Linked DNA regions of Homo sapiens. The protein of the gene in region 2 interacts with the protein of the main gene of each other region in a pairwise test. Each region holds a gene or a part of one and is shown on either strand. Other genes may lie near its edges. The genes, in order: GRAMD4, SH2D4A, FCHSD2 and NINL.

Evidence for each region.
Region 1: the proteins of SH2D4A (region 2) and GRAMD4 interact in binary tests that used the Homo sapiens proteins (3 or more experiments, as listed by UniProt).
Region 3: the proteins of SH2D4A (region 2) and FCHSD2 interact in binary tests that used the Homo sapiens proteins (3 or more experiments, as listed by UniProt).
Region 4: the proteins of SH2D4A (region 2) and NINL interact in binary tests that used the Homo sapiens proteins (3 or more experiments, as listed by UniProt).

What each region holds. Positions count from the first base shown.
Region 1 is NC_000022.11:46,665,365-46,672,388, forward strand, and holds part of GRAMD4 (GRAM domain-containing protein 4), read left to right. Parts: intron 1-250; coding exon 251-342; intron 343-1,460; coding exon 1,461-1,509; intron 1,510-2,731; coding exon 2,732-2,803; intron 2,804-3,324; coding exon 3,325-3,368; intron 3,369-3,434; coding exon 3,435-3,544; intron 3,545-7,024. UniProt on the Homo sapiens protein: Plays a role as a mediator of E2F1-induced apoptosis in the absence of p53/TP53. Plays a role as a mediator of E2F1-induced apoptosis in the absence of p53/TP53. Inhibits TLR9 response to nucelic acids and regulates TLR9-mediated innate immune response.
Region 2 is NC_000008.11:19,358,678-19,365,701, forward strand, and holds part of SH2D4A (SH2 domain-containing protein 4A), read left to right. Parts: intron 1-2,525; coding exon 2,526-2,637; intron 2,638-5,394; coding exon 5,395-5,605; intron 5,606-7,024. UniProt on the Homo sapiens protein: Inhibits estrogen-induced cell proliferation by competing with PLCG for binding to ESR1, blocking the effect of estrogen on PLCG and repressing estrogen-induced proliferation. May play a role in T-cell development and function.
Region 3 is NC_000011.10:73,139,314-73,146,204, reverse strand, and holds the start of FCHSD2 (F-BAR and double SH3 domains protein 2), read left to right. Parts: upstream 1-3,886; 5' UTR 3,887-4,327; coding exon 4,328-4,348; intron 4,349-4,720; exon of another isoform or gene 4,721-4,984; intron 4,985-6,076; coding exon 6,077-6,174; intron 6,175-6,891. UniProt on the Homo sapiens protein: Adapter protein that plays a role in endocytosis via clathrin-coated pits. Contributes to the internalization of cell surface receptors, such as integrin ITGB1 and transferrin receptor.
Region 4 is NC_000020.11:25,477,532-25,484,555, reverse strand, and holds part of NINL (ninein-like protein), read left to right. Parts: intron 1-2,455; coding exon 2,456-2,588; intron 2,589-4,288; coding exon 4,289-4,395; intron 4,396-4,902; exon of another isoform or gene 4,903-4,989; coding exon of another isoform or gene 4,990-4,992; intron 4,993-5,349; coding exon 5,350-5,633; intron 5,634-6,160; coding exon of another isoform or gene 6,161-6,361; intron 6,362-7,024. UniProt on the Homo sapiens protein: Involved in the microtubule organization in interphase cells. Overexpression induces the fragmentation of the Golgi, and causes lysosomes to disperse toward the cell periphery; it also interferes with mitotic spindle assembly.

The DNA.
Region 1 (7,024 bases), on a different chromosome or scaffold from region 2:
CCGCCCTCTTCTGTCCCCAGGACACGCTTCTCCCTAGGTGTCTCCTGGCTTCCACCGGCGGCTCTTAAACCGGGGAAGCAGCCCTTCCTCCGGCTTCCCCATCAGACGCACCCTCATCCCTGAGTGTCTGGAGAGCCAGCGGGTGGCCTGGTCTCCCCACTGGGGCCGCCTGGTGGGGGGAGGCGGGAGGGATGTGCCTTGTCCTGATCCAAGCTGTCAGGAGGTCTGACGCCCTGTCTCTCACCCGCAGGTGTACATGAATGCCGTGTGGCATGGCTGGGCCATCCCATTGTTCTTATTTCTAGCAATTCTGAGGTTATCCCTCAATTACCTCATCGCCAGGTAGGTGAGCCGGTTTGTTGCAGCTGCTTTATCCCACCGCATGTATGGCTGTGCTGTCTCCCTGCGTCTCACAACCGTGACCCCAGCTGGGTATGTCATGCACTGACGTTTTGGGGGTGGTCCCCTGACAGGCTCCAGAGACCCCCCAGGCAGGGCGGCTGCCCCCTCCCTGGTTTGCTAGAGATGGCAGTGGGAAGTTCCCAAATCCCCCAGCAGCTCCTTCCCCGGGCGGCCAGCAGAGCCAGGGCCGTTCCAGCACCTGCCCGAACATCGCAGGGGGCTTCTCCCCAACATCAGTGGGTAGGTGGGTGAAGCAAACAGGGCTCCACGCCCCGGAAGGTTCCTGCTGGCTGCCTGTTGGAGATGAGCCTGCTGGGGAGGAGCTGGACCGGGAATGAGTACCAGTCGCCTGCAGACAGCACGCCCGTGTGACTGACGCGTTAACCCCAACCCTGGCCTGAGTCAGGGCTCTCGTGTCACCCCTTATGCCCCCTCTGAGCACCCCCTCCCTGTGGAGGCTGAGGGGGGCTCTGGGAAGCCCATGCCCTGGGGTGGACCCCTAGTCCCTGCACTCCTGGGTCCTTCTTAGCCTGCGGTTACCCCTGGAGTGAACCTCAGCCTTGCACCGAGGCTCAGGGAAGAGCTGTGATTCTGTACTTTGACTTGGCCGTTCAAAAGTTTGCACTTTTATGCACCAGTGTTTCCAGATGGTTCTCTGTGCCTGCCCCAGTTGGCTCATTTGAAAATGTTTTTTGTAGAAATCACTTAAATACTCTGGAAGGTGTCGTTGGTACCCAGAGCTAGGTCAGGATCAGCTTGGACACTTGCTGATGCCACTTTGGATGTTGAAGGGCCGCCCTCTCCCACACCGCTGGCCACTTTTAAATATGTCCCCTCTGCCCAGAAGGGCCCCAGAGGAGGGGCTGGTGAGGGTGACAGGAGTTGACTGCTCTCACAGCAGGGGGTTCCGGAGGGACCTTTTCTCCCCATTGGGCAGCATAGAAGGACCTAGAAGGGCCCCCTCCAAGCCCAGCTGGGCGTGCAGGGCCAGCGATTCGATGCCTTCCCCTGACTCAGGTGGCGCTGTCCTAAAGGTGTGTGTGTTTTCTGTTCGCCAGGGGGTGGCGGATACAGTGGAGCATCGTGCCCGAAGTGTCTGAGCCCGTGGTAAGTCCCTGGAGGGTGCACGGTCTCCTCCGACTGTCTCCATCACGTCAGGCCTCACAGCCTGTAGGCACCGCTCGGGGAAGCCTCTGGATGAGGCCATGTGGTCATCCCCCTGGAGTCCTGGCCTGGCCTGAAGAGGAGGGGAGGAGGAGGCCAGCCCCTCCCTAGCCCCAAGGCCTGCGAGGCTGCAAGCCCGGCCCCACATTCTAGTCCAGGCTTGGCTGTGCAAGAAGCAGATTGCCTGGCCCTGGCCAGGCTTCCCAGCTAGGATGTGGTATGGCAGGGGTGGGGGACATTGAGGGGCTGCTGTAGCCCCCACAACCTCCCCAGGTAGGGTGGTGAACAGTAGGCTGGACAAGTGGACCTGTTCCCATCTGAGATTCAAGAGCCCACCTCTCGGAGGTTGCAGTGAGCCGAGATCCCTCCACTGCACTCCAGCCTGGGCAACAGAGCAAGACTCTGTCTCAAAAAAACAGAACAACGACAACAAAAAACCCACCTCTGGCCCACTGCCTAACTTTGTAAATAAAGTTTTATTGGCACATAGACACACCCATTCATTTACATACTGCTGCGGCTGCTTTTGCATTACCCTTGAGTAGACGACAGACCACGTGGCCATGGAAGCCAAAAATATTTACTGTCTGGCCCTTTACAGAAGTCTGCTCTAGAGGGAGACCCCGGCCCATGGGGCAGGACCACTGGGCGTGGGCAGAAGGGAGGCCTCGGTGCCTCCACGGGCCTAGTTGGGTATCTCAGTGCCTGTTTCTTGCATGGAGCACCAGGGGTCAGGGCAAGTACCTGGAGGAGGCAGGCTGTTGCCCGCCCAGCACTGGGACCCAGGAGACCTTGAGAGGCTCTTAACGAATGGGAGACAAGCAGGACCAGGGCTCCCATTGGCTGGGCCTCAGTTTCCCTGCCTGTAAGTGAGGGAGGGCAGCTGTGAAGGTGAACTGTGAGGCAGAGCCTCTGCTCAGCCATTGCAGGGGCGGCTCTGCCCCACTCCTGTTGTGCACCCAGAGTGAGGGGCACGGGGTGAGATGTCACCATCAGCCCATAGGGGTGTCCTCCTGGTGCCAGGTCCCCAAGGGATGTCCCATCCCCCCTGGCTGTGTGGGGACAGCAGAGTCCCTGGGGCTGGGAGGGCTCCACACTGTTTTGTCAGTGGTTTTTCTGAACTGTTAAATTTCAGTGGAAAATTCTCTTTCCCCTTTTACTGAAGGAACCTCCAAAGGAAGACCTGACTGTGTCTGAGAAGTTCCAGCTGGTGCTGGACGTCGCCCAGAAAGCCCAGGTACTGCCACGGGCGCCGGCCAGGGGTGTGTCTGCGCCAGCCATGGGCACCAGCCAGGGGTGTGTCTACGCCGGCCAGGGGTAGGTCTCCGCCGGCCTCCGCTGCTGCCTGGGGAGGGCCGTGCCTGACACTGCAGGCCCGGTTTGTCCGCGGTCAGCTGACTTGTAGTCACCCTGCCCTTGGATGGTCGTTACAGCAACTCTGGTGGTTGGGGAAGGGGCCTCCTGATTCAGCCTCTGCGGACGGTGCGCGAGGGTGGAGCTCCCCTCCCTCCCCACCGCCCCTGGCCAGGGTTGAACGCCCCTGGGAAGGACTCAGGCCCGGGTCTGCTGTTGCTGTGAGCGTGGCCACCTCTGCCCTAGACCAGAGCTGGGCCTTCCCCGGCCTAGGAGCAGCCGGGCAGGACCACAGGGCTCCGAGTGACCTCAGGGCTGCCCGACCTGGAGGCCCTCCTGGCGTCGCGGTGTGACTGACAGCCCAGGAGCGGGGGCTGTTGTAATTGCTGTTTCTCCTTCACACAGAACCTTTTCGGGAAGATGGCTGACATCCTGGAGAAGATCAAGAAGTAAGTCCCGCCCCCCACCCCGGCCCTGCGGCGCCCGCCCGGCCTGAGCCTCCCGTCTCCTTCCAGCTTGTTCATGTGGGTCCAGCCGGAGATCACACAGAAGCTGTATGTGGCGCTCTGGGCTGCCTTCCTGGCCTCCTGCTTCTTCCCCTACCGCCTGGTGGGGCTTGCCGTGGGTAAGTAGATGCACCTGCGGCCTGTAGCTTCAGGAGGAGGGACACAGGTGTCCGCATGCCACCAGTGTCTGCCAGGTGTCTGCAAGAGCTGTTAAACTCACCTGGCGATCCTTCCTCTGCTTTTTGTCACAAATGTTTCAATTTGGGAGAAGTGAAGCCCATCCGAGATCGAGGGACACGGTGATTGTTTCTTAAATCAAGAAGCCCTCCACTTCCAAGGCCCCCATGTCTCCTGCAAAGTGGGAGGAGCTGGAAGACCCAAGACCCAGGATAGCAGGACTTGGGGTGTCAGGGAATTGCCCTGGGCAGGACATGCCTCTTGGGGCGCCTGTGGGCTTAGGGGTGACAGTCATGGAGAGCCTGAGAGCCTGGTTTGATGTGCAGGGAGGTTGGTTGTAGCTGATGAGTTTGGTGACATCACGTGAAGCCAAGGGTCTCATCCACTAAAACACTCATCTGCAGAGCTGGCGGCGGGGAAGGAGGGTGGCTGGCGGTGAGGACCGGGCTGTGCCGGGAGGTGGGTGGGGTGTGGTGGCCCCCCCTCACCCCAGGAGGCGCTCATCCACTGCTGCCCAGCATGCTCTCTTCCCTCCTTTCTCTTTTCTTTTTTCTTGCTTCCCTCCTTTATCTTTGTCTTTCTCCTTTTCTTTGTTTTTGTCTCTCTCTCTCTCTTTTTTTTTTTTTGGAGACGGAGTGTCGCTCTGTCGCCCAGGCTGGAGTGCAGTGGCGTGATCTCGGCTCACTGCAACCTCCGCCTCCCGGGTTCAAGTGATTCTCCTGCCTCAGCCTCCCAAGTAGCTGGGACTACAGGCACCCGCCACCACGCCCAGCTAATTTTTTTTGTATTTTTAGTAGAGACGGGGTTTCACCTTATTGGCTAGGCTGGTCTGGAACTCCTGACCTCAGGCGATCTGCCCACCTCGGCCTCCCAAAGTGCTGGGATTACAGGCGGGAGCCACTGCGACTGGTCTCTTCTGTTTTGTTTTGTCTTGTCTTGTTTCTTTTCTTTTCTTTCTCTTTTCCTCAATAACAACGATCCAGTGTCTGACATGGGCCACACACTGGCATGTGGGAGCGAGGCCGCCAGGGTCCTGTCCTTGAGGGGCAGGTGGGACTCGCCTGAGCCCACGCAGGACAGCGTGTGCGGCTGTAGGAGCCACAAAGCCAGGGGTGGGGAGAGCTCCGTGCCGGAGTCGGGAGGTCAGACCCCGGCCCCTCAGCAGTCTAGGCTTGGCGTGCTGCGCAGAGGAGCAGTGGGGGCTGTGTCTGTGTGGAAGAGCAGATGCCCCCTGCCACGTTTCCTGAATGCCTTTACCATAACGCAAGCCCGACCCTAGCCCTGACCCAGCGTAACTGCTGGTGGGAGGACAGGCCTCTCTGGACGCAGCACGGCTGAGCTGTCCAACAGCAGCTCACTGTGGCCATCAGGTGGCATCACCAGGAGTGGGCAGAGCCAGATCTGATCAGACCCTTACCCCGACAATGCCCTGGAGCCCCTCTGGCTAGCACCCAGGACTCTAGGCTCATGAATGGGTAGGTGACCACTGTGACCTCCTGTTGGACCCCTAGGCCTGGGTCCAGGTGCCGAGGCTCCAGAGCTGCAGTGCACTTGCGGCCCTGGACAGCTCCGGGGCAGGCCGCCCTCCACGGGGAGCCTGGGGGTGTGCACCTGGGTCTTGGTGTCCTGCATCTGCCCTGCTGTCCTTTTTTTTCAAGACAGCGTCTCAGTCTGTCTCACCCAGGCTGGAGTGCAGTGGCACGATCTCGGCTCACTGCAACCTCCATCCCCTGAGTTTAAGTGATTGTCCTGCCTCAGCCTCGGGAGTAGCTGGGATTACAGGGGTGCACCACCACACTCAGCTAATTTTTGTATTTTTAATAGAGACGAGGTTTCACCATGTTGGCCAGGCTGGTATTGAACCCCTGACATCATGATCCGCCCGCTCGGCCTCCCAAAGTGCTAGGATTCCAGGCGTGAGCCACTGCGCCCGGCCCCTGCTGTCCTTTTTTGTGACACCCAGTGTGGTTTGGGTTCTCACAACCACCCTGAGATCACCACTGCCACTGGGCAGCGGTGACCCTGCCAGGTGTGGGCCAAGATGGCATTCCTGGCTTATCGGTGCCCATGTATTCTTTTGCAGTGCTGACAAGGGACCTCAGCTTAGAGGGGCAGAGGCTGCCTGCTCCAAGCAAGGATGGCCCCAGCTGGGACTTGGGCTCTCTTGAGCTGAGCTGTCCCTCCTGGGTCGGCCACCACGTGGAGGAGGCCTGGGAGCTCAGTCCAGTCAGCCAAGGGGGTGGTCCTGGCCCTGCCCCTCCTCACACCTAGCATCTTTCAAGAATCAACAAGTTGTCCGGACACGGTGGCTCACGCCTGTAATCCCAGCACTTTGGAAGGCCGAGGCGGGTGAATCACTTGAGGTCAGGAGTTCGAGACCAGCCCAGCCAACATGGTGAAACCCCGTCTCTACCAAAAATACAAAATGTAGCCGCGTGTGGAGCTTGCAGTGAGCTGAGATCGCGCCACTGCACTCCAGCCTGGGCGACAGAGCAAGACTCTGTCTCAAATAAAAAAATTAAAATTAAAATTAAAAAAAATTAGCCAGGCATGGTGGCAGGCGCCTGTAGTCCCAGCTACTCAGGGGGCTGAAGCAGGAGAATGGCGTGAACCCGGGAGGCGGAGCTGGCAGTGAGCCAAGATCATGTTGCTGCACTCCTGCCTGGGCGACAGAGCAAGACTCCGTCTCAAAAATAAAATAAAATAAAATAAAATAAAATAAAATAAAAAATTTAGCCGGGTGTGGTGGTAGGCTCCCAGCTACTCGAGAGGCTGAGGCAGGAGAATCGCTTGAACCCGGGAGGTTGCAGTGAGCTGAGATCAAGCCATTGCACTCCAGCCTGGGCAACAGAGCAAGACTCTGTCTCAAAAAAAAGAATCAACAAGTTGAGAATTGGGGTCAAAAAGTCTGACTTGATTGATGAATTTCTGTGAAAATGTCCTACAAAGGCAAAAAATGAAACAAAGGCACAGCTTTATCAGTCCCTTTATAGCACAGATAGTACATGGAACTCTGACCCTGGGGCCCCTGCAGGGAGGGCCTGCCACGTCTGGTCTGGTCTGGCGGGCTGTGCACTGGGGGCAGCGAGACAGCCCCCAGCACTGGGAGGGGCACCCGGAGAGACCGGAACTCCTGACAGCTTTTGCTGCCCAGGGGGGTGCGTTAGCAGGTGTGTGGGGGCCGGCCCCGCCTCCCATCCCTGCATCTGTTGCCAGGTGGGGTCCTGGGGCGCAGTCAGGCCTGGCTCTTCTGAGGTCGTGTTTAGTAGGGGGACTGACCATGATTGTGTCAGGTGACAGTATCGGGGAGAAAACGGAGCTGGTGGAGGGGAACTTGCGAGGGCGTGGCTGGGAGCCGTCTGAGCAGCTGGTCATGGGCGGCCTCTCAGCAGGGATGGGCTGGGCGTGGGGGGGCACCCAGT
Region 2 (7,024 bases):
AGAACAAAGGTGATAAAACAGAGGCATCCTCCTTTGGGGACACTTGTGAGGCTCTGATGAAGGAATTGGTGGGGAGGCATTCTAAGTGCTTCCATCAACAGGCTGGACAAGAGGCTTTCTGAACGGGCCCAGCGGCTTTCTATATGGGCCCAGCGTGCCCTTGTTTTCTGGTACTGTTAGCTGAACACATTTTCACAGCTCACACCACACATCTGGGTCTCCACACCTTCCACCCTGGGCATCTGGATTAGCATCCAGCCTCGGCCCCTCCGCCCCTCCACTCCAAGCCATCACCTGGATTTCCCCATGCCTGGCTGACAGTCCTGAGTCCTGGTCCAACATGCTTCCAGCAAAACACTGCTGAAAAGGAAATGATGGTCTTCTGAATAGAGAAAGTAAACCATTACAGATTTTGATAAAAGTAAAATTCTCTCAGAGACGCAGGACAAGTTCCTTACGTTTTCTAGCTTTCTTGAATAAATACGGTGGTCAGGGCCGTATATAGATGGGTAATAGCAGATCTCATCTGCTATTACTCTGTGAAACTCGTTAATTTTTCTTCTTTTCCACTGTGCATGTACATAATTACATGCAGATTAAAGGAGTAGATTTATTAAATATAGCTCTGTTAGACATTTGAGTAACATCAACCAAGTACTACATCTGTTATTATTAATATTTTTTCTTAGGTAGAATCATGTCATGTTCCAAATTTCTTGCTTATCCTCAGCAACAATATCCATGATGATCATAGCTTGATGTTTTCACTATATGTTTCCTAACCGTTTAAAAATAAACACGTATGCATGTGGAAGGATGAACAAAGCTCCACTTTGAAGCTTTTTCTGTTTAAGCTTAGAAATTGCTAGCAGCACATGTATCTATCTTGGGCTGGCAAACAGCTTCAATCAAAGGATGGCAAATTTTAACAGTCCTTTCAAACATCAAAGCTGTCCTTTGGATTTTCAAATGTTGGCAAACAAAAGGAGCTTAGCTCTAGGCAGGAAAACAGTGTAAGGAAAAAAAAATGAAAACAGTAAATGCACAGAAGTTTAGTTACATCTGCAGTGAAGCACAATTTATGAATGATGATTACTTGAACTGTGATTTATGACTGCCCAGAGCGATCAGAAACAAGTTTCACAATATTAATGTTTATACTTTACGTTGTGGTGACATAATAGCAAGGAAGTCTTTACATTTCTGTGGGAAAGCACAAAATTAAAAAGCTTGTCACTTGTGATAGAGAGGTGGGCACAGGCAGCCCTTTCTGGCCATTTCAGTTTGTTTTATTGCTTAGCTAACCAAGGCTTTTATTAGTCCACCAAACTGTAAATTCAGTCGTCTTGTGAGCACTCAGAAGGTTGTGTCCAAATAAGCAAAGTACTTTTCAGGTCTAAGTGATTTGGTTTGTTCATTTCTCTTTCGTTTAAAATGATTTCCGTTGAATGCTCTTAATGCCAGAAAACAGTACACTAAAAAATGGTTAAGGTGGTAAATTTTGTTATGTGGAATTTTACCCTAAGTTTTAAAAACCTAATTCTCCTTTTAAAGGAATATTTACATTTTGAAAGTATTTCTCCCTTCTCAAAAGATGCTTTTGAAAAATATTTTTCTGTTTTTTTTTTTTTTTGAAACAAAAAAATACATATTCTGGCAGGGTGTGGTGGCTCATGCCTGTAATCACAGCACTTTGGGAGGCTGAGGCAGTGGATCACTTGAGGTCAGAAGTTCGAGACCAGCCTGGCCAACATGGTGAAACTCCATCTCTTCAAAAAATACAAAAATTACCCAAGTGTGATGGCACTTGCCTGTAATCCCAGCTACTCAGGAGGCTGAGGCAGGAGAATCGCTTGAACCTGGGAGGCAGAGGTTACAGTGAGCCGAGATTATACCACTGTACTCCAGCCTGGGCGAAGGAGTGAGGCTCCATCTTAAAAAAATAATAATGATATATATTTCTTTTGAAACACTTAAAATCATGTAGTAAGTACCACATTTTGGGACACATGACTCGGGGGAGAGATTCAGCTGAGATTGCTCTGGGAATGTGCATTTCTTCTGTGGAGTCTGTCAGCTACTGTAAAGTAGGTTGATGCTAGTTCTATGTAATAGTGTGTTTACATCCTTCAGGGAGTCAGTTTGAAGCAGCTAAGTACTGTGTCTGAGGAAAAGGAATATTTTTTCTTACTATATGTTATACACTGTGCCAGGGACTTCTTAAGTTATCTAATCCTCAATATAACCCTAAGAAATATTTTTTTCTCATCTTTCTTATGGGGAAACAGCCCAAGAGAGGTTCATTTGTTGCTCCTGGAGTTACACACTAGCTAGCAATGGTCAGTCTTACTTCAGGTCTTACTGACTCCAAAGTCCACACTTGATCCTTCCTAGTGGGCCAGAGAGTTAGATAGAAGTCAGCTGTGCCGGGTACCCCGTCCTTCAGGAAACTGCTGGATTTGCTCACCAAGGTTCTTTTTTTGTTTTGTTTTGTTTTTGTTTTTTTTTGTTTTGTTTTTAAACAGAAGAAAGAATCTATGAAGAAAAAACAAGATGAAGAAATAAATCAAATAGAAGAAGAGAGAACGAAGCAGATTTGTAAGAGCTGGAAAGAAGACTCGGAATGGCAGGCATCTCGTGAGTACCCAGAGGTCTCCATAGCACCTTCCAGGCTCTCAGCTGATTCTCTCCCTTAATAATGTGATCAATCTAGAAAGCGCTTAATGTGGGTTGTTGAGAGATATGTTCACAGTAAGTTACCACTCAAATGTTATTACTAACTTATTACTCAAATGCTTACAGGCTACTTTTGAACAGCAGACTCGTTCTCCATTTATTTCTGTATCACCAAAATTATGATGTAATTTATCAAATAGCATGATATATAGCTATGGAAAATAGGTTTTGGAGAGTGTTTAATGATCTTAGACTGTTTATATCTCATTAGCTTGGGGAAGAAAAAACACCATGAAATAGAATGAAAAGCTTCGCTATTTAGAAATGTCTAAGTATCTGAAGGAAAAGAACTGGAAGGTTATAATAACATGTAAACATTAGTTTTCTTGGAAAGGTGAGATTCAAGATTATTTATTTGAATGTTTTTCTTGTAATTTAATATTGTGTTTTGGATTTTTTTTCCCCTAAATTTTTGATAGTGAATACATTTTAACTTTGTAATCAGAAGCACACAGGAATACCAGGCTGGATGTGTTAGCATCCCGCTCCTGCCTGTGACCCAGCCTTGACTCCTATTTGAGTGAGCAGAATGGGTGAGAAAACTCATAGGAGAAGAATAAGCCCATGCAACTGAAGGCAGAGGAGAGGATGCTCCAGAATGCTAGAAGAATTAGGTTTGTGAAAGAATTAGTGTTTCCATCTGACTCAGAGAAATCTGAACTGCTAGATCAACCTGAGGTGGCTTGAGGAAGACAGCAGGTATGGCTATATTTGCAGGATGTTGAGATCCTACATTGATCTGCAGTCCCATTACAACCAATGCCATTTAAATGACAACTACTGTGAAATGAAAATATTTGCAAGATCCAGTAGGCTCTTTGTACTATGCACTGAAATCCTAGCATAAGGGAATATTTTGGGTGTCTCTTTGAAGTCAAGTATAACAGGATTTGACCAATACTGCCTGAAGTGTAAATATAGTCAATAAAAATCATTTTTACATTCTGCATTTGAGTCTCATTGCTATAACAAAAAATTCTGTTTTACAAAGTAGTCATGCGCTGTATGATGTTTTGGTCAACGATGGGTCGCATATAGTTTTTAGGCCAGGCACTGTGTCTCACTCCTGTAATCCCAGCCTTTTGGGAGGCCAAGGTGGGTGGATCACTTCAGGTCATGAGTTCAAGACCAGCCTGGCCAACATGGTGAAACTCCATCTCTACTAAAAATACAAAAATTAGCTGGTTGTGGTGGCGTACACCTGTAGTCCCAGCTACTCAGGAGGCTGAGGCAGGAGAATTGCTTGAACCAGGGAGGCGGAGGTTGCAGTGAGCCGAGATCGTACCACTGCACTTCAGCCTGGGCAATGTAGCAAGACTGAGTCTCAAAAACAAAACAAAACAAAACAAAAAAAACACAGACACACACATACAGAAAACCAAAAAATAATAATAAAACCCCAAAATAATGGGTTGCATACATTTTTAAAATAAATTTTATAAATGTAGTGTAGCCTAAGTGTAAAGTGTTTACAAAGTCAACATCAGTGTGTAGTAATGTCCTAGGTCTTAACATTCACTGAGCACTCACTCACTGACTCATCCCAGAGCAACTTCCAGTCCTGCAAGCTCCATTCATGGTAAGTGCCTTATGTAGAGGCACCATTTTTTTTTGTCCTCTATACCATATTTTTACTATACCTTTGCTATGTTGGGGGTATTGATTATTTTTATTTTTTTGAGATGGAGTTTCGCTCTTGTCACCCAGGCTGGAGTGCGATGGTGTGATCTCAGTTCACTGCAACCTCCGCCTCCTGGTTTCAAGGGATTCTCCCGCCTCAGCCTCCCCAGTAGCTAGGATTACAGGCGCCTGCCACCATGCTCAGCTAATTTTTTGTATTTGTAGTAGAGTTGGGGTTTCACCATGTTGGCCAGGCTAGTCTCAAGCTCCTGACCTCAGGTGACCCACCGACCTTGGCCTCTCAAAGTGCAGGTATTACAGGTATGAGCCACTGTGCCCGGCCTTATGTTGGGGGTATTTAGACACACAAATACTCTTGTGTTACAGTTGCCTTATGATGCATTTCTCAGGATTTATTTCTCTCATTAAGTCACTAGTGACTGTAATATTAAAAGGCAGACTTGGGGTACTTTTTTGTGTACTAATGTGTCCTACAATTACCTGTGGTTAAGCATCCCTTTAATTTTTTGTCTGTCAGGTTGCTTCTCATTCTGTCCTGCTCTCTGCTCCTTCACCCTATGCACAGCCCCATGCCACTGAGTAGTCCTGATCTCTGCTAGTGAGTCAAGCACACTGCATCTGAACATAAGTCATGCAGGGCGTGACAATTGCCTCTTATTACTCAGCACCCCTGCCAGCTTGAACCCATGCTCAGGCGGGGGATCCTCACTTGGTCTTGCCAACTGCAGGAAATTCTTGCACACTTTCTCTACTTCTCTCTCATCCCTTCTTCCTCCTCTTCCTTTTCTCTCCCTCTCAGAAAACCCCCAGTCCTGTATGAAGAGAGGAATCCTGCAGCGAACGCTGGGCAAGCCCTAATGGCCTGGATCATAGGTGTTGATAATGATTGTTCCTTATTATAAGCAGACAACAAACTGCTGAGAACCTGCGCTGCTGCCCGTTGTGCAATGAATGCTGAGCCTTCTCACCTGCTCTGTGGGCTGATGAGGGTTTTCTCCGACCCCGTTGTTTTTCCAGTGCGAAAATCCAAAGCAGCTGATGAGAAGAGACGCTCCTTGGCTAAACAAGCACGAGAAGACTACAAGAGGTTATCCCTCGGGGCCCAGAAAGGAAGAGGCGGTGAGAGGCTGCAAAGCCCCTTGCGTGTTCCGCAGAAACCAGAAAGACCTCCCCTTCCACCCAAGCCTCAGTTCCTAAACTCAGGGGCATATCCTCAAAAACCTCTTAGGTAAGAAGCCACACAGATGGGTTTATGCATAAACATTGCAATGGGCTTTGAATAAGCGTTGAAATTAAAGGGGAATTGTATGAGCTGCCATGGGGTGTGGAGGGCCAACTGGCAGCCTGTGTAAGTAGCTCAGGTTCATGTCTAAGCCTTCTTCCTGGGTGATCTGGGCGGGCATTCCTCCCTTTTTTAGCTGTCAAATGTCCATAGCTGTTATACTTAGTATACCCAGTGAAATAGTAAAGCTGTGCATGGAATGAGAGAACTTCCCGTGTCCCTACCCCACTCTCCCCTTTCCCTCCCCCGCCCCCCTCCCCCCCAGAGGCAGCCGGTGAGCCAGTGAGGGGAGAAGAGGAAACAAGTGGGGTTTCACTGATGCCCAAGATCACCCTTAGTCAAAGATTATCAAAGTAGGAACCCAAAGGCTTGCTGACTTTCGTGTGATCAGTGGGAGTACATTTTCACTGCCAAGGATTAAAGGTTTGATGGTAATTCTCATTCACGGATACATAGCCAAGTTCCTCTTTTAAGAATTTGGAAAGCCTCCTTTTTTAGATGAATTGTCTATTTGGTGGTGGAGATACCATTGTCTGCTAGGCTGTGGAAGAATTAGGAAGAACCATTTGTTCTGGAAAAACTGTAGAAAAGTGCAATGATGCTATTAAACCCCCATCCCTTATGTTTGCTGATTCTAAATTTTTTTCTGGTTATTGATCTTATTTTTAACATCCTAGTATTTAGAAAGAAGTATTAAAATCAAATGTTGATTGAAAGAAACAGAATTGTCTAAAGCCTTGCATTCTGAAATAAAAACTAAAAATAATTTGAAATACTTCTCTAAGATTATGGAGAAATGAAAAATAAGACTCTTCTCCTGCTTGGAGTCGTAGTTATCTTCAAGGTTGTCTTTAAACAGGAGTGATGACCTCAGGGGAAACACAAAGGCGGATGTTTTTCTTTGCTGTAATTATTTCTACTTACTCTACTGGAAAGTTCCGTTTCGGGAAGTGGGGACCAACGTGGAACTCAGTGGAGTAAGTGGAAATAATTACAGTAAAGACCATGATCTCCAAAGTGATCGTTTGGGTAATGATTCTTCTCTTACCGACAACAAAGCAAGAAATGTAGTCAGGAAATAGGAGTCTCTTAATTGTGAGAACAGCTGACAAAGGTGCACACGGCTCTAAGTGCTGGAGCTTGTCTGTCCGCACGTTGGCGACAGAGCCTCAGCAGGGATGTTTTTGCAGCTAACTCCTGTTCACCGTCTCTTCCAAAGGTAGCATGGAAATGACTTGTAGATGTCCCTGTCCCACAGCATTTTGAAGGACAGTATATTTGATTGACAGCAATGAAGGTGGTCTTTAAAAAAGGGCAATTCCTATTTTCAGCTGTGCTCAGTTAGCTCATTTTTTCCAACTGAAG
Region 3 (6,891 bases), on a different chromosome or scaffold from region 2:
CTGTATACTTTGTCTCCCTGCCAGTTTTCCCAGGAGCCCTGGAATATCAGAACAGCTGATCTTCTGATACCCATTCATATACCTGCTCCAGGCCAGTTTTTGATCCTAGCTCTGACTTAACCTTAGAATCATATTCCTAATGAAATGGGAGACTGCACTGCAGCATGCTGGAGGGAGAGCACAGCTTCAGAGCCAGGGGCCAGCCCTCCCTTTCCTTCACTAGCTGTGTGACCTTGGGTAGGTCATTTCACTTCTGAGCTGCAGCCTGTGCAATGGGGTTATATGTATTATGAGGAGTTGTTGTGAATGTTGGAAACAATGTAAATAACACGCCTATTTTAATGTCTGGAACATGGAAGAGGCAAAATAAATGGCAGCTGTTATTAATTTCTTTTCAGAGTGAGATCCCATCTGTGGTCTCCTTGATGGAAGGGAGCCAGAACCTGTTTGCACAGCCCCAGGGACAGGGAGCTCACTCCTTCCAGGGGTAGCTCTGCCTGGAAAAGTTCCTTCCTGAGATGCAGCTAACACCTGTCCCAGTTTTGTCTCTGGGGCCATAGTGCCTGCTGCTCTGCACCATTTCCCCAAAGAATCTCAAGCAATGCTACTGGCAACACAGCGCTTGCCTGCATTGCAGGAGCAAGGCTCTGGAAGTCCCCAACCCTGTTCAAAATGGTACATTTCAAGTCAGGCTTACATAAGTCACAGAAATCCCTTCCCTGGTCCCCTAGAGTCTGGAACATAATGGATTGTATCCTCCTGGGTCTGCTTATTTTCCTGCGTTAGGAACTCTCCCAATTCCTTTGAACATTCTTCATACACGAACATTCCTCATCGGACAACTGGGTTATGGTCTGAAGTCTATCATGTCAGGGCAAGTCACTTATCCCCACTGAGCCTCCAGTTCTCCATCAGTAAAAATGAAGAAACGAATACTATCTCATGGGTAAAGATTAGCTTGGAAAAGTAATATGAAAGTTTAGGGTTTGGAAGAGACACTTGGTAAGTATTAAAACAATTTTTTTAAATCACAGTTTTGAAATAGGAGTTAGTAGGTAAGCCCATCTGGTATTGCCCTTAGCTCTTTATAACACTTCCAAAGGAAATCATTCCAGAAAGTCAGTGCCACTCCTGGCTTCAGAACGGTGGCAAATCAGGTAGAGGATGCCCTCCTATATGCATAAACGAAATCCCCAGGGTCTGACTTCTTCTGTGAAGAGCCTCCTAAGTTCTAGGCTCACTCACTTATCTTATTCTGCAGGCCAGCACCAAGGCCCAGAGAAGACCCACTAGATCCATGGTAGAGGCTGGATCCCATGTCTCCCAACATCCAGCACCATTATACCCCAGTGCTCACTTCCTAAGAAGAGAGGTGAAGGGAGGATAATCTCTGGGCCAGACCAGTTGCACCCAAGACTAGGATTCAGCAAATCTTTGTTAAGCACTTGTTATGTGCATGACACTGCATCCGGGCCAAGTACTGTGTTACTCCTCTTCCACTAGCCCAGTGTCATTCAAGGAATGGTTGGTCTGGAACTCAGTCTTGGCGAAGGCTGATTCTATCTTGCTCATCTCTAGAACCCCAGTGCCTGGCACAGGCTTGGAACAAAGCAGGACTTTAGCAAGTATTTTTTGAATGAATGATGAATCAATAAGCACTTATTTTATTTTTTATTTTTTATTTTTTTTTGAGACGGAGTTTCGTTCTGTCCCCCAGGCTGGAGTGCAGTGGTGCCATCTCTGCTCACTGCAAGCTCCACCTCCCGGGTTCACGCTATTCTCCTGCCTCAGCCTCCTGAGTAGCTGGGACTACAGGCACCCGCCATCACGTCTGGCTAATTTTTTGTATTTTTAGTAGAGACGGGGTTTCACCGTGTTAGCCAGGATGGCCTCGATCTCTTGACCTTGTGATCTGGCCACCTCGGCCTCCCAAAGTGCTGGGATTACAGGCGTGAGCCACCGCGCCTGGCCTCAATAAGCACTTATTAAGCACTACATGCCAGGCCCTGTGGTAGGAGAAATTCTATTTAATACAGTAAGCCTATGAGGCTAGCATTATACCTCCATTTTACAAGTGAGGAAACAAGGCTGAAATAAGTGAATTGACTAGCTCAACGCTTCACAATAAATTGGTGGTGGAGCTGAGACTGGAGCCCAGCCTACGCTACCTATGGCCTGGGCTCTAGCTGCCACCCCGCAGCTGTCAGGGCCCTGGGCCTCCATCCACCTGTCCCCTTGCCCCAGGCCTTCCCTGATTTGATTAAGGATTCTGGTGAAGGGCTAACTTTTGAAGCCAGAAAAAGCAAGACTAGTCTCCTAGTTCATACACAGCTCTAGATTAATCTTATTCAAAACACAGCTCTGTCACTTTTCTGTACAAGAATCTAGTCTAACTCAATGTAAACAACCTGGGTTGAAGTTCCACCTTTTCAATTTCTGGTCATGTGGTCATCTGGGAAGTTACTCGTCTATCCAGGCCTCATTCACCTTCCTCTTAGGCCTGACTGCACTTCTGAGAACAGCTGTCTGGGATCTCAACTTCTGAAAAAACGGTGGAGTAATCCAGCTCAGCCTCCACACAGCCCCGTGACTCAAAAAAAAAAAAAAAACCTCCCTGGGCATGGGGAAGAGGTATTCCTCTTCTGAGGACCCCAAGGGAGGTCGATAAACTCCCCCGTAGATGGTCTGAACAGAGCAGGAAGGTTCATGTGTGGTGGTGGGGTGCACTGCTTAGATAAGCACCCTCACTGGCAGATAAGGAAGCCGAGCTCACCTAGCCTGTTAAGGAGCAGGCAAAGTGGACTGGCACCCAGAGATCCTGACTCCCAGACAAGGGCTTCCTCTATGGCCTCTCCTGCCTCTTCTACTTTTCCTCGTGCTTATTATCCTGCACCTGTTTCTTTTTTAAAATAACCCATAGAACACTTCCTGACGCAGATTCTAGTCCTGCTGTGTAACCTTTAGAAAGGCTTCCCTCTATGGGCACTTGCCTCCCCGTCTGTGAAACGGGGGCCTCGGCCTTAACGTTCTCTTGGCTCCCTCTCAGCGGAGTCAGTGATGTTTGACTTGAATGCCCTGCAGTAGAGTGCCGCCGTTTCCTTTGCAGAGCAACTGCCTTTCCGCCCTACAATCGCAATGGCCTGGCACCTGCGGCCAGCCGCAAAGCGACTTGTCCTTGCTCGCCTCTCTCGCGCACATCTAGCTGGTAGGGAGAGTAGGGTGTTGAGGGGCTGAGAGGAAGAAAACGCCGGAATTCTCGTATCCCACAGGCATGCTGCGCCCCCCTCCCCACTGCAAACGTTTCCCTGCGAGCGTCGTCCCCCGCGCCCCCCGACACACACACACACACACACACACACACACACACACACACACACACACACACACACACACGCAAAGGCAGGCAGGAGGCGGGGGCGGCCTGTGCGCGTGCGTCGGCGCGGAGCCCTCTCCCGCCCACGTGCGCGCCCCCGAGCGGAGACGCGCGCGCCGGGGCGAGCTGGCGGGAAAGCGCGCGGGAAGCCCCCGGCTGGCTCCCAGCGTGGGGGAGGGAGGGCAGGAGGCGTCTGGAACGTGCCACTCTCGGAGAGAAAGGGGGGATTTTCGCGTGGCGCTGGCGTTTCTACACCTCCCACCCACCGACCAATCCGTTAGCTTCCCCCTTCCCCTGCCGCGGTACGAAGCCCCGTGCCGTGGCCTAGCTCCCTCCTGGCAGCCCGGACCGGCCCCTCGAACCCCGCTCTGGACAGAGCGGTTCCCTCAGCATCCGGAGCGGGGCGCTGCGCCGCGCGGCGAGGCCGGAAATTCCCGCGGCCTGAGTGGTGGAGCCCTAGCGGGGAGAGCGGCGCCACCTTCCTCCTCCCGGGCGGGCGGGGGCGTTAGGCCCAGCGAGGGCCGGGCCGCCTGAGTGGGTGGGGTGGGGGCCGCTGCGTCCGCCGGGAGCGGCGGCGCAGGCGGCCGACCGGGAGCGCGGACAACGCGGCTGCGGCTAACCCGCCGCCCGGCCGGCTGAGACCCTCGCGCCCCTGCTCCTGGGGCCCCCGCCCCCTCGCCGTCTCCGCCTCCTTCCTCACACACCCCCGGGCCGCCCGGGCCGCCCGGGCCCCAAGCCTTCCCGGTGCTCCTCCCTCGTCTCCTCACACTCGCTCTCTGGCTGGGGTCCGCCTGCCGCCCGCTGGCCTGCTCCCTCCGGGGCAAGTCTTGCTTCTTAAGCGCTCCTTTCACACACGCGCGCGCTCGCTGGGCCGTCCCCTCCTCTCCGGCCCTCCTCCTCCTCCTGGTCCTTGCTAACGCTGCCGTCGGGGAGGATTGATGTCCCTTCAGCATCATGCAGCCGCCGCCGAGGAAGGTAAGGGCGCAGCTGGGGGGCTTTGGGGTTCGGAGAGATGCGTACGCGGAACGCGGCTGGGGCGACCGCTGCGCCCCTTCCCCCTCCCGCAAGGGGCCGTGACCGCCCTCGTCTTGGGCTTGTCACCGACTTGCCGCCGGCTCCAGGTGGGGGGCGCGCGTGTGAGTTGCCTTTCCGACAGAGGGGCCGCCGGGGCTCGTCCGTCCTCTAACGCAGGAGACCCCCAGACATTTCACAAGAGTTTCGGGTGTGCATTTGTGTGTGTGCGCGCGCATGGCAATGCTGCCCGCTGCAAAGTGCATTCTCGGGGCTGCACCGAGGGGGAGGCGGGGACGCCCCTGCAGCTTTGCAGAGCCTTGTGCGTGTGTGATTGTTTAGTCTGCACCAGCTTTGAGCCCTCCAGCCGCTTGTCGCCAGCCCCGCCCGTTTGCAAATTTGCGGGGGATTTGTTTCTAGCCTAGCCTTAGGGTTTGGCCTGCTTTTCCCACGGGGCGGCCGAAAAGAAGTTGGAATAGTCACCGCCTCCCCACCCCAAGGGAAAACAAATTAAGGATTGACGGGTCCTGCCTCGTCCCCGGCTGAGGGGCGAGGAGGCTGTCGTGCTGTCTTCAGAAAAGCGAGGACCGGGCCCGGGAGGTGCGTGGGGTGTGCACTGCGATCCGGGGTTGGATGACCAGGGTGGGAGTGACGGATGCACCCGGCTTGTCATCAGTCTCCCCGCTGCGCCCTTCCCCAGCTTTCCCAGGGGCCGAGGCTGTGTCCTTGTCTTTTTAATCCTACAGATGGATACTGAATGTCTACTCTGGGCACTGGGTGGATGAGGCCGTTCTGTCCTCCCCTCGTGGGCAAACATTTGCCTAACGCCTAACTCACCCGTGTCTGCTGCCGCTGCTTTCTCTCTTTCCTAATCCGGGTTTCTCCATTTAAGTGAGTCCTTTTCTTTCGAACATGTACCCCCACCCCTCCGGGTGGTCCCACTGCTGAGGCCGAGATTCCAGACTGACCGTTAACTTCGAACCCTGGGGCCCCGGCCTGGCGGGCGAGGCTCTCTGGCCAGCAGGCATTTGCTGTTCTCCGCTGTTTGAAGTGGAGCCTCCACGGGGATCGGCTTCCCGGGGTAGTTTAAAAGCACTGCATATGCTGGAAGGTCACTTTTGCTTTCTCCTTTGTGAGAAAGAGATTGTGATTTGATGCGCTGTCAGCAAGTCGAGGGCATCATTCTGAGACAGTGTGCTTTTTCGCAGCCATTATGGAGTAATTTATGTAGTCGATTCAGGCATATTATCATGATTGTGTAAATATTGGTCATTGGGTATCAGGCACTCTTAGGCTCCCAGCCCCCATCCACACTCTGCTCACCTCTCCTGGTGGTTAATGTCTTTGAATCTTTTTTAGAAATAGAAGACAGGCTCTTTTAAAACTGTAGGAAGACCTAGACGTGGATTGAGCTTGTGCATGAAATGGAATGACTGGCAGTTTATTTTGCACGTCTTTAGTTTGTAATATTTATAGTCGTGTATTTTCATTTAACCTCTGTTCAGGCTATTTGGCTTTAATTTTTCATTAAATAAGTATCTTCAATAAATAAAACTAGATGGCGAATATTGGATTTATGGCCTTCAGGGGAGAGGCGAGCAAGAGACATATTCTGACAGATGTATTTTCCTGAAGCAATTTTTTTGGGTTAAATTTGTAAAAAGACCTTCATAAATATATGGTATATTTTAGGTGAAAGTTACACAAGAACTGAAAAACATTCAAGTTGAGCAGATGACAAAACTTCAAGCCAAACATCAAGCAGAATGTGATTTGCTTGAAGATATGAGGTAAGGCTATAGTAAATAGTTCAAGGACTTCTGTTTGTCTGTTTCAAAGAACCTTTGAGTTACCAAGCCCCAGGAACTGATGATGGAATTTCCTTTTGGATTTCCTGCTTTAAGGCTGTTAGAACTTTGACTCAGCTGGAAATTAGAACTGGAACTAACACAATACAAACTTTTTCCTTCAGTGGGGGACCTATAATGCACACATAGTATTCAGAAAAAACAAGGACCTTAAAAGTCTTACTAGTCAAATTATAATAATTAAAGATTCTTGTTTAAATAATCTTTCCACGGAATTGTAACAATCATTTTATTGACCTTAACGGTTTTACACAGTTAGATTTTTAAACCAACACTTGTGGTTAATGGTTAATATCTGGGGGTGAGCCAGTCAACCCCAGATGGTTATATGCTCTCACTGGGTTAGAACATGACAAATACAACTTTGTTTTTGAGTGCCAAATTTAGTGAGAAGTGTGTTTATCATATTTTATTTTATTATTGAGGTTACTCATATTCATAATCAAGTTAACTTTGAATAGCTAAGACATCTTGCTAATATTGTGAAAATCAGTATCTTTCTTACTAGAGGGATGGATGACTTATTTTAATGAAAGAAATACCACTTATTTAACAATCTTGTAATACAGACTGACAGTTCAACAAAGATTTTCGTCAAGAATGGAAGATGATTTGCATGGTGAAGCAAGAGTGGCTGCA
Region 4 (7,024 bases), on a different chromosome or scaffold from region 2:
AAGTGAGAGTCCTCGGCTGCTTGCTGTGCCGCGGCATGCCCCGCAGTGTTGGCTGCTGCCTTGTTTTGTCAAATGTTTCCACACTTGCTGGCATAATGAGATGCCCCAGCACCTGCCCACAATCTGCCATTTCTCCAAGGAGTCTTGGTTCCTTTCCTGAGGGAATGGTTTTAGAGACAGGATCTGGGTGCCTGGCATGCTGCTCGCTCCTAGGGGTCGCTGTGTCTTGACTGAGGGCATCTTTCTGGTCGGTCTCCAGATTCCAGAAGGATCACCCTGAGCCCTCCCCACTGTATGTCACCTGATCTCTGCAAACTCACTTTTGGGGTTTCTTTGTATTTTGTAACAAGGATATTGGTGTTTTTAAAAACTTTTTTTCTTTCAACTTTTATTTTAGATTTGGGGGTACCTGTGCAGGTTTGTTACCTGGGTATATTGCATGATGTGCCGTGTGGGCTGGGGCCTCCCTTCTCCATCTGGGCCTCTCCACGTGGCCTCTGCAGGGCTACTTTGGGCTTCATCACAGCATGGTGGCGGCAGCTGCCCCAGAGCAAATGTCCCAGCAGAAGTGGGTGGATGTCGTGTTCCTGGAAGTCCCGTGGCATCACTTCTGCTGTCTCCTAGGTCGAAGCAGTCACAAGTCCCACTCAGGCTGCAGGGCTGGGGACCGAGGCCCCAGCCACGTGTGAATGGGGAAGCATGCACAGCCTGGTTTATGTCTGCTTCCTGAAGGTCTGCAGGACCCTGGGAGGTGTCTAAGAAAGTGGGCTAGAAACTCTGCCCTTCCTGTCCCTTTAAAGAGCAAGTGACTGAGCATACTGGTTAGGACGTAGTTCATTAAAGTGGGAGCACAATTAAGCTGGCCACAAATGCAGATGCCTCCCCTGAAGCTTCCACCCACCCTGCCATGGTGTCCTAGCCTTCCCGCCGCCCACGCGGCCTCCACCTGCTCCAGTGTCTCCTTACCAACATCATCCTTTCTTTCTGACATGTTCTCTGCTTTGCAGCATATGATCTGAAGCAAATGGTTTCCTCTTTGGTAGTTAAAGCTGCAGAACCCTTTGCAAATTCAGTGGCCGCTGAGGAAGGAATCCTATCCTTACCCAGGGCACTGCCTGACATGCACATTGCAGCACCACTGCAGTTCCAACAAAGACTGTAGTTTCTGGTGGTGACAGTATTCTGCATTTTCTTTTCTTTTCTTTTCTTTTTTTTTTTTTGTTGAGACAGAGTCTTGTTCTGTCACCAGGCTGGAGTGGAGTGGCACAATCTCGGCTCACTGCAACCTCTGCCTCCTGGGTTCAAGCGATTCTCCTGCCTCAGCCTCCTGAGTAGCTGGGATTACAGGTGCCCACCACCACGCCTGGCTAGTTTTTGTATTTTTAGTAGAGACCGGGGTTTCGCCATGTTGGCCAGGATGGTCTCGATCTCTTGACCTCGTGATCTGCCCACCTCAGCCTCCCAAAGTGCTGGGATTACAGGCATGAGCCACCACACCTGGCCTCTTTTCTTTATTTATTTTTTTCTTGAGATGGAGTTTGCTCTTTTTGCTCAGGCTGGAGTGCAATGAATGGCATGATCTTGGCTCACTGCAATCTCTGCCTCCTGGGTTCAAGCGACTCTCCTGCCTCAGCCTCCCAAGTAGCTGAGATTACAGGCGCATGCCACCATGCCCGGCTAATTTTTGTATTTTTAGTAGAGATGGAGTTTCACCATGTTGACCAGGCTGGTCTCAAACTCCTGACCTCAGGTGATCTGCTCATCTGGGCCTCCCAGAATGTTGGGATTACAGGCGTGAGCCACCATGCCCGGCCATACTCTGCATTTTCTACATTTCTCCCCAGGAGCTGCCTCACTTTTTTCTTTGAGCCCCTCCCATATAACAGTGATAGAAAGTGATGTAAGGGCCAGGCATGGTGGCTCACGCCTGTAACCCCAGCACTTTGGGAGGCTGAGATGGGTATATCACTTGAGGCCAGGAGTTCGAGACCAGCCTGGCCAACATGGTGAAACCCCATCTCTACTAAAAATAGAAAAATAAATAAATTAATTAACCAGGCGTAGTGGCGCACACCTGTAATCCCAGCTACTTGGGAGGCAGAGGCAGGAGAATCACTTGAACCTGGGAGAAGGAGGCTGAAGTGAGCTGAGATTGCACCAGTGCACTCCAGCCTGGGCAAGAGAGCAAGATTCTGTCTCTAAATAAATAAAATACAGTAAAAATAAAAGTTTTTAAAAGTGAGAAAGTCAAGAAAGGACCTTTGTTTTGGCTTATCTCACCATGATGTTAGCGACTTAAAATCCAGATGGTTTCCTGCTGGAAGCTGGGAAGCAACAGGCCCTCACCTCACAGTGCACCTCACCTGCAAGGGACCCCCCTGGAGGCCAGCTCGGCCAGCTCGCTGGGCTGAATGGCTGCAGCTGCTAGAGGAGGTGGCTGGCTCTGTCCCCACAGGACCTGCAGGACCGCAACGATGAGCTGCAAGCTGAGCTGGAAGGCCTGTGGGCGCGGCTGCCCAAGAACCGGCACAGCCCCTCATGGAGCCCGGATGGGCGCAGACGGCAGCTCCCTGGACTCGGCCCAGCAGGTAGGAGCCCGTCCCTGGGAGGGGGCTGACCCAAGGCCTGCTGTTGACAACAAGGCCCAGAGCCAGGAAAAGAGAGTGGAGATGATGAAGATGATGATGTTGCTGTGACCTGAAGGGAGGTGGTCTGCTCTGCAGGGACTTTCCAAGGAGGATCCAGGGATGCCACAGGGTGACCTTGCAACACGGAAGGTCACCTGCAGAGGGAGGAGGAAGGGACGCTGAAGGTGGGCAGCCCCAGGGCTGGCCCAGGCTGTTCCCACATCTCAGAGCTGTTTCAGTGACACGGTACTTGCTGAGACTGAGAAGAGCTAAATCCCGGAGAATGCATTGGGGCCTCCCAGTACTCAGGCCTGTTCAGACAGAGGCTGTCGGGGCTTACCCTTGCTGCTTCTGGGTGATGTGGTAGCTGGCACCACCCCCCAAGTCTGACTGAGGCAGGGAGGCACCAAGCACTAAGGGAGCGGCCCCACCTGGCCAACTGCCCCTGTGCTCGCAGCCAATGGGATTAGGACAAGCTCCAAGGACCCAGGGTCCCCGGAACCCACATCGAAGTGTCTCTGGCTCCTCTGCAGAGAGAATGGGGGTCCAGGTGCTGCAGCCGCCCTTGAGGTCTGTGGTGCTCCCTTTGGAGGATGGGGTGGCCTCTGCCCACTCAATAGCAGCATACAATGCACATGGCTCCGTGTCCACTGCTGTGACAGGGGCCCATGGGGACCCAGCAGCCCCACCTGCTCCCCTCGCTCCCCCGTCATGGCAACCTCAGCCCCTCAGAGAAGATTTTGCTGCCATCTGTAACCCCGGGAGAACTTCAGAGTTCTCCTGTTGCCCTGAAACTGTTTACTCAATGAAATAAAAAAAAATAGGCCAATATGGGAACCTCATAGGGGAGCCTAGTCGGGGCTTTTGTGCATGTGAGACTGACCTCCTGGGACCCCTAAGGCACCCCCTCCCCTGCTGGCTCCTGGATTGGAGTCAGGCTCCTGAGGCGCCACCCCAACAGCTGGCAGACTCTCAGGAAGCTGCAGGGAGGTGCAAGACCCCACCGGCCACCCATCCCAGAAACGCACATATCCAGGATTGCCTGCACCCAGGGTGGTGCCTGTGGGTCCGTAGCCCCATTGACGTCCCACCTGGATGCCGCTGGCTGTCACACCTCCCTGCCCGTCAGTCTCAGAGCGCTAATTCCAGCAGGGGTTAGTGTGCCAGAACTGCCTCTCAGAACTTGGCATCGTTTATGTGATGAAATAATAATGTAGGGCCACCAAGGAAAGGTTATCTAAATAGATAGATAACCTCCGTGCACACAGCTGTGGTCATCGGCACATCATCTAAAGCTCTGCACCACCGGGCATCTGCTGTGCCACAGGCCATTATGTCCTTCCATTTCCTCCGTGACCCTGGCATCTTCAGGGAACAGGATTTAGGGTGCAGTAAATGTACCATAGCACAGCATATTTTAGGGACTAAAGGGGCTCCTGTGAATCATGTGGGGAGCCACCTAGTCTCATCTCTGAGTGTTCTGATAAATAACGGAATGCTATGTACTGACGAGTGCTGACTTTAAGGACGCAGCGTCATCCTCACAGCCAGCACCACCTGCCCCTCATGGATGCCAATGCCAAAATATCAGATTGGAAGGTTTGGAAGGGGCCCCCGTGGCATCCTCAGTGTGACAAACGGAAGTGGCCTCTTGTTTGCAGGCATTTCATTCCTGGGTAATTCTGCTCCAGTGAGTATAGAAACGGAGCTGATGATGGAGCAGGTAAAGGAGCATTACCAAGACCTCAGGACCCAGCTGGAGACCAAGGTGAGGGGATTATGGGGCTGTGGGGCCCTGGGGGAGTAGCTGCTGTGTGTTGGGCAGCTTTACTTGGGCACGCTGACATTTCCACATGCGTCTGCCCTGGAATCCTTTGTCTCATTGTGAGCCCCTTTGGGGAGGAAAGTTTGTAGAGAAATGCAATAAAACTGACATGCTGCCCAAACCCTCTTTGGAAGGACACAGGACATAGGATGACTGATGGGGAGGGAATGGTGTGATACTCTGGAGTGTCACAAGGGGATACTTGAGGCAGCGCAGCGCCGTGGCCAGCCCTCCTTGCTGGTCTGTGGGTGGGAATCAGTTACTGGCTGTGCTCCAAGCCTGAGCGACCTGGCATTTGCCCCCTGGGTAGCTCAGTGGCTTTGAGGCCAGGGCCACCCTGGATGAAACTGTCAGGATGAACTTAGCCCTGTTCTGTTCCTAGACTGTGGTGGCTTTTGAGGGACAGTGTCCATGACTTGTTGTGTGTCCAGTTCCTCCGTCAGGGTACCAGCTAGGTGGAGCTGCCTGTGGCCATGCCCTGGGGATCCCTGAAGGATTAACTGGAAGCTCCGGCGAGCCCTGCCCACCCATAGTTGAATGGTATTCCTTCCACTGAGGGCCTCCACGCTGTTCAGAGCCACCCCGAGGTCCTGTAAAGATTCCACCCTCTGCGTCCCTTGCAGTGCTTGGCCAAATGCTCCAGTGAGCCCCGAGCTTCCTGCCTGTCTTGCCTGCCGCCCTGCCTCAGGGGGGATAGGTGACTCACACCTCACTAGGCCCTGGGGAGCACCACCAACATTCATGTCACTGTCCCCTTCTGCACACCCTGGCACCTCGGCAGGCCAGGATGCCGGTCTTTGCACGTTGTGCCAGGCAGCTTCGTGTTTCTGTGTTACGTCAGCAGCAAGATCATTCTTAGGGTCTCCTGGTCCACGGGGCTCATGTTTCTCGTTTTAGGTAAATTACTACGAAAGGGAAATTGCGGCACTGAAAAGGAACTTTGAGAAGGAGAGGAAGGACATGGAGCAGGCTCGCAGGCGCGAGGTCAGCGTGCTGGAGGGTCAGAAGGCCGACCTGGAGGAGCTCCACGAGAAGTCTCAGGAGGTCATCTGGGGCCTGCAGGAGCAGCTGCAGGACACAGCCCGCGGCCCCGAGCCTGAGCAGATGGGCCTGGCACCCTGCTGCACCCAGGCACTGTGTGGCCTGGCCCTGCGGCATCACAGCCACCTGCAGCAGATCAGGTCCAGCCAGCTTCTTTTGAGATTTCAAGTCTGGGGTTTCTTGCCAAGAACCAAAATTTGAAATTAGACTTAGGAAACAACTCAGAATTGCTGTGCCTCCCGACTGGGTGGTTTTCCTCTGGGCAGATGGGTGAGTGCCAAAAGAACAGGTCCTGGCATGAGGATTCTGGCTCTGAATTTAAAATATACATTGGATCATGGGCCATGAAGCTGTTCACTGTGTAGAAACAGCCCAGTGTTCTGTACCCTCTGCCTCAGCCGTGCCCGGCAGCAACATTGCCTCCATCGCTCAGAGACACCCGCTTCTCCAGGGCCAGGCAGGGTAGCATGTGGGGAGATGGAGAAAGGCCTGAAGCCCTGAACAATGGGAAAGATGGCCAGCTGGGGTTAGTGAGGTTCCCAAAAAGGCTCAAGTGTGCAAGCGAGAGAGAAGGCTTACAGAAAGCCTGTGCTGGTGTTTTATGTGTTCTGGTGTGAGGTACATGTGAAGTGACCACGTCTGTTCTTGTTGGGGGCATCTGAGGTAGGAGAGGAAGTGCCTGGTCATCGCAGACAGGCTGCTGCTCAGCTGGCACCCACTGTCCTGTGGAGAGCATTGGCCCCGGCTTAGAAGAGGACGGGCCCTCCCACCACACTGGCCAGGCCACCCCCAGCCTGACAGAAAGTCATCTTTCCGGCCGGATGCGGTGGCTCACACCTGTAATCAGCACTTTGGGAGGCCAAGGCGGGTAAATCACTTGAGCTCAGGAGTTCGAGACCAGCCTGGCCAACATGGTGAAACCCTGTCTCTACTAAAAACACAAAAAATTAGCTGAGCATGGTAGCAGGCGCCTGTAATCCCAGCTACTCGGGAAGCTGAGGCAGGAGAATCACTTGAATTCAGGAGGCGGAGGTTGCAGTGAGCCGAGATCTCGCCATTGCACTCCAGCCTGAGCCACAAAGTGAGACTCGTCTAAAAAAAAAAAAAAGTGAGACTCGTCTCAAAAAAAAAAAAAAGTCGTCTGTCCATCCTGTGCCTCCCCAGGCTTTCAGCTATTTCCCCTTAAAGCCAAGAGCGTGTGGTAAGAGATTGGGTCAGAGTCCCTGCAGACCCCAGTGGGAACAGAGGGGCAGGCACAAGCAGCCCCTCTCCTCTCAGCATCCAGGCCCTTGTGCACCTGGCCCCCACCCGGAGCTGTCTCTAGCAGCCTGCTCCTGGGGAGCTGCTGTCCCCGCTCTGCAGGGCTCCCGATCTGCCAATGCTTGGAGGTGGAGGCCCTCCAACCACTTCCTTGCTCCCCTTGCCCTGGCCAGGCATGGACCACATACCCCTTCTGGTGCTGTGGTCTTGCCAGCTCTCACTTCACTTCCACTGGACTCTCCTGCGGGCCACCAGAGGTCCCAAGGCCCAG